Linked DNA regions of Homo sapiens. The protein of the gene in region 2 purifies or fractionates together with the protein of the main gene of each other region. This does not show direct contact. Each region holds a gene or a part of one and is shown on either strand. Other genes may lie near its edges.

Region 1 (3,500 bases), on a different chromosome or scaffold from region 2:
TCACACACACTTGCCCAATATAGTATGTTTTAAAGGTTGGATAAGTGGACAACATTTCAAGTTTTTTAACACAAAAATCCAAATGTCCCTTTTGTTTGGAGAAGTGAGAAATTCTCTGGCCTCTGGGGCCCAAATTCCCCTGTGGCAGTGAGGGGCTGAGCTTAGTGAAATTTGTCAGGCCCGTTGTGGCCAGTTCCTCACACCTGTGTTGCCTCCCTAATCCCTGTAGGCAGTGGAGTGGGTGGCCTGGATCTATAGTAGATGGTATGCAGGTGTCCGCCCTTGGCCACCAGTGGGTGTGCATTAGGAGGTGGTGTGGCCAGTGTGGGGATTTTCACTCCAACTGCATATCAGAATCACCTGGTCCCTGTGCCTCACCGCCCCCCCACCGCCACGCAAGAGAAAGCCAAATCAGTTGATCTGGGATGAAACTTGGGCATTGGCAATTTTGAGACTTTTTATATTGAAATAATTTCAGACTTAGAATAGTACAAAGAGCTCCTATATACCTATGTACCTTTCACATATTTCACAAATGTTAGCTTTTTTTTCTTTTTTTTTTTTGGACACAGAGTCTTGCTCTGTCACCCAGGCTGCTGGAGTGCAGTGGCACAGTCTCAGCTCACTGCAACTTCCACCTCCCGGGTTCAGGTGATTCTCATGCCTCAGCCCCCCAGGTGGCTGGGACCACAGGCATGTGCCACCATGCCCAGCTAGTTTTTTGTGTTTTAGTGGAGACGGGGTTCATCATGTTGCCCAAGGTGGTCTTGAACTCCTGAGCTTAGACAGTCTGCCTGCCTCAGCCTCCCAAAGTGCTAGGATTACAGGTGCGAGCCACTGCACTTGGCCAAATGTTAGCATTTTACCACATTTGCTTTATCATTTTTTGTCTATATACATATTAATTTGTTCTGAACTATTTGAGAATCAGTTGTAGACATGATGCCCCTATATCTCTAAATACTTCACGCCAGGCATGGTGATTCACGCCTGTAATCTCAGCACTGTGGGAGGCCTTGGAGGCAGGAAGATCATTTGAGGTCAGGAGTTTGAGACCAGCCTGGGGAACATGGCAAAACCCTGTCTCTACTAAAAATACAAAAATTAGCCAGGCCTGGTGGCAGGCGCCTGTAATCCCAGCTACTCGGGAGGCTGAGGCAGGAGAATCGCTTGAACCCGGGAGGCAGAGGTTGCAGTGAGCCAAGATCATGCCACTGCACTCCAGCCTGGGTGACAGAGCAAGAGTCCGTCTCAAAAAAAAAAAAAAAAAAAAAAAAAACTTAATCAAATAAATACTTCAGTGTGTATTTCCTACAAAAAAAAATGACAATCTTTTTAAACTGTAATACATCCAGCAAAATCAGGAAATGAAAATTGATATATCACTCTCATCCACTCCCCAGAGGGCACCATTCAGGAGTCAGCCTTTGTCCCATGAATGTCCTTTATGGCCAAAGGATTCTGTCTAGAATCACACATTGCATTGAGTTGTCCCCTCAGTCTCTTTCAGGCTGACGTGGCTCCTCTGTCTTTTCTTGACTTTCAGGATCTTGACATTTTTTTTTTTCTTTTTGAGATGGAGTCTCTGTCGTCAGGCTGGAGTGCAGTGGTGGGATCCTGGCTCACTGCAACCTGACTCCCCAGTTCAAGTGATTCTCCTGCCTCAGCCTCCCGAGTAGCTAGGATTACAGGCATATGCCACCATGTCCGGCTAATTTTTGTATTTTTAGTAGAGCTGGGGTTTCCCCATGTTGGCCAGGATGGTCTCGATCTCCTGACCTTGTGATCCGCCCGCCTTGGCCTCCCAAAGTGCTGGGATTACAGGCGTGAGCCACAGCACCTGGCCACTTTTTTTTGTTTTTTTGTTTTTTGAGACGAAGTCTCACACTGTCGCCCGGGCTGGAGTGCAGTGGGGCGATCTTGGCTCGCTGCAGCCTCCACCTCCTGGGTTCAAGCGATTCTCTGCCTCAGCCTCCTGAGTAGCTGGGACTACAGGCATGCGCCACCGTGCCTGGCTAATTTTTGTATTTTTTTTTAGTAGAGACGGGGTTTCACTATGTTGGTCAGGCTGGTCACGAACTCCTGACCTCGTGATCCACCCGCCTCGGCCTCCCAAAGTGCTGGGATTACAGGCTTGAGCCACTGCACCCGGCCAATCTTGACACTGAGGATTGTAGACGAGGTATTTTGTAGAGTGTCCCAGCATTTGGGTTTGTCCAATGCCTCCTCACGGGCAGACTCAGGTTCTGCATCTTTGGCAGGAACAGACCAGAAGGGGTGCTGTGTTCTTCCTGGTGCCTCCTCTCAGGAGGTCTCCTATGACTGGTGGTGTTCACTGGGAGCACTTGGCCAAGGTGTTGCCTGCCAGATTCCTCCACTTCAAAGCCTCTCTTTTCACCTTTGTGATTAGCAGGTATCCTGGGGACATCTTTCCTGAGACAGTGCAAATATTATCTTGTTCCTCACCAAACTTTCACTCAACTAATCTTAGGCTTTGACACTTTTCAGATGCTCCCCAGGGAAATCTAATGTACAGCCAGGACTGAGAACTACTGGCTTAGAGGTCAGGGCTCTGCCCTGTCTGGTTAGGTAACTGCAGGCAGGGGACTTCCTTGTGTTGCAGTCACCTCATCTGCCAAGTTGGTTCATGAGAGCCCTGACTCCATGAAGCATGCTTGAGGAATCAGTGCACTGATGGCCAGACAGCATTTGCCAGAGGGCCAGGCACAAGGTCAGGGCATGCGACAGGTTAGAGGTGGCTACGGGCAACAGAAACCCCTCCACAGCATGGCTTAAAACCCAAGAGCATGCTCTTCCTGCATGTCATAAGTCCAGAGGTGGGCAGCCCAGGGGCTGTGTCTCTGAACGCCACATTTTTTTTTTCTGTCTCTCTTTTTGAGACAGAGTCTCACTCTGTTGCCCAGGCTGGAGTGCAGTGGCGCGATCTTGGCTCACTGCAAGCTCCGCCTCCTGGGTTCACACCATTCTCCTGCCTCAGCCTCCCAAGTAGCTGGGACTACAGGCGCCCACCACCACGCCTGGCTAATTTTGTTTTTGTATTTTTAGTATAGACAGGGTTTCACCGTGTTAGCCAGGGTGGTCTCGATCTCCTGACCTTGTGATCTGCCCACCTCAGCCTCCCAAAGTGCTGGGATTACAGGCGTGAGCCACCGCGCCCAGCCCCACTTCTTTTTTTCTCTAGACGGAGTCTTGGTCTGTTGCCCAGGCTGGAGTGCAGCAGCACGATCTTGGCTTGCTGCAACCTCTGCCTCCCGGGTTCAAGCAATTCTCCTGCCTCAGCCTCCCGAGTAGCCGGGATTACAGGCTCCTGCCACCACACCTGGCTATTTTTTGTATTTTTAGTAGAGGTGGGGTTTTGTCGTGTTGGCCAGGCTGTTCGCGAATTCCTGACCTCAAGTGAACCACCCACCCCTCTGCCTCCCAAAGTGCTGGGATTACAGGCGTGAGGCACCGCACCCGGCCCCCATTCCTTCTCTCCT
Region 2 (2,427 bases):
GAATTTCGCTCTTGTTGTCCAGGCTGGAGTGTAATGGCACAATCTCGGCTCACTGCAACCTCTACCTCCTGGGTTCAAGCAATTCTCCTGCCTCAGCCTCCCAAGTAGCTGGGATTATAGGCATGCACCACCATGCCCAGCTAATTTTTCTATTTTTAGTAGAGATGGGGTTTCACCATGTTAGTCAGGCTAGTCTTGAACCCCTGACCTCAGGTGATCCACCCGCCTCAGCCTCCCAAAGTGCTGGGATTACAGGCATGAGCCACTGTGCCTGGCCTTCAACTGCTCTTTCTTAAATCTTATTGGGAGGACTGAGGGGTTACCATCAAAGAATGTGCGTTATGTTTAAGCACCTTTCAAGCCTGCATGGACCCAAAAGGGGGGATTTTCATTTTTACTTATCCTTGAAATGTCTTCTGACTCCCTGGCTCTTTTGCTTTTCCTGAAGACACAGACCAGACCTAAGATGTCCCTCCCCTATAAGAAAGACCTCATCCTGTGTTTTCTCTCTCTTCTTCTCAGGCAGGAAAAACATATGAACAATTAAAAGAAGAGCTGGGAGATGCTGCTGCTATCATGCGAATCACTGCTGTGAGTCGGGTTCGCTCTTGGGAGAAGCCAGCCACATGGGCAACCAGAGCCAGAGAACACACAAATGCTACAGATGCTCACAGGCAAAACTCATGTCCTTAGTATTACCATAGTTGTCTGTTTTGATGTAAAGACTTTTTGTAATCAATAGAAAAGCAGGTCTCAGAGCCAAGTTCCTTATTTTCCTGACTTCCAGATTTTCAAACAGACTTGCTGTGTAAAAACAACAAAAATGGGGCCGGGCGCGGTGGCTCATGCCTGTAATCCCAGCACTTTGGGAGGCCAAGGCGGGTGGATCACCTAAGGTCAGGAGTTTGAGACCAGCCTGACTAATATGGTGAAACCCCGTCTCTACTAAAAATATGAAAATTAGCCGGCCGTGGTGGCATGCGCCTGTAGTCCCAGCTACTCGGGAGGCTGAGACAGGAGAACTGCTTGAACCCAGGAAGCGGAAGTTGCTGTGAGCTGAGATGGCACCACTGCACTCCAGCCTGGGCAACAGAGCGAGAGTCCGTCTCAAAAACACAACAACAAAAAAATGAATATTTGTTTTATTATTCAACTCTGCCGTTTAAGGAGAGATTAAAGTCATTGGCAGTATTTTTCAGAAATAAGCTTCTAACCCAAATGACATTTTTATTCATTTCTGACAGTGAAGTCCACAGAAACTTAGGCCATTTACACCTATTTTAATGGTTAAAAGAAGTGGAGCCTCTAGCCAGGAATCCAGCAGTTCTTTAACCTCAGGAGGAGTGCATGGCACCAGGTGTTCAAACCATCTGGCAATTCTGTCCTTTGTGCTCTACAAACTCAGATTCCAAAGCTAATGTTGATGTAGTATCTTTAAATTGTATTTAAGTAGGACTACAACCTAAAGTCATTTAAAGGCTGGAAATGCAGGGCTAAATAAAAGTACCAAGAGAAGGTATGTGATCCCAATATTCAAATGAGATCCAGACACAAGATGTATGCCAAACTAGCTATACAGGACTTGCCTTGGACTTACTGAATCAGCTTTCCCAAGAACAACCCCAAAATCTGAATATTTTCTATTCCCAGATGATTCTGACATGCAGCCAGGTTTGGGGAGCATTGTTATCAAAGATGATTACAGAGGGTGAAGTGGCATAAGTCAAAATGTTAAATATTATACACATTCAGAACTGTAACCACACAGACACTGAGGAGTCTTTTCCCTGTGCCTACATTCTTATCTTACCTAGGACATGAAGAATGCAACCCTCTCCCTGAATTCTAATGACAGTGAGCCAAAATATTACCCTATAGCAGTTCTGTTGAAAAACCAGAATCAGGAGCTGCCTGAGGATGTAAACCCTGCCAAAAAGGAGGTGAGTGGCTGAAGGAACTGTGTCTGTTGGAAGTGGAGCTCTCCGTGAGTAAAAAACTCAGCTCAGCAAATGGCCTAGGACAGCTCCGGCACATTGTAGCCGCTCAATGGACATCTGAGCTACCTAGGAACTCAAACCAAAAAAAACCAGGGTTCTTTCTTGATTCTTTTCTCTCCACCTACATCAGTCTATCAGCTAGCTTCTGTTCACTCCTCTTCCATTTCTCTGCTACTAGTCTAGTCCAGCTATCATGGACTACTTACTACAATCCAACTGGTTTCCACCTGTTCCTACAATCCGTTCCCCACACAACAGCCAAAGAGATCTTTAAAATATATGGCACGGCCCTGTTTAAAACACCTGGAATAGCTTCCCACTACATTTAAAAAAAGAATGTGAAGGCCTATACAATCTGGCCCCTGCCTAGCTCTCTGATTTCATTTCATATACCAATACCCTCATCACTCACCACCCTTCAGCCAGTACA

Evidence for each region.
Region 1: the proteins of AVIL (region 2) and WDR62 purify together in Homo sapiens (affinity purification with mass spectrometry; one large-scale study listed by BioGRID and IntAct). This does not show direct contact.

The regions. Positions count from the first base shown.
Region 1 is NC_000019.10:36,061,397-36,064,896, forward strand, and holds part of WDR62 (WD repeat-containing protein 62), read left to right. Parts: intron 1-3,500. UniProt on the Homo sapiens protein: Required for cerebral cortical development. Plays a role in neuronal proliferation and migration.
Region 2 is NC_000012.12:57,799,308-57,801,734, reverse strand, and holds part of AVIL (advillin), read left to right. Parts: intron 1-522; coding exon 523-591; intron 592-1,814; coding exon 1,815-1,940; intron 1,941-2,427.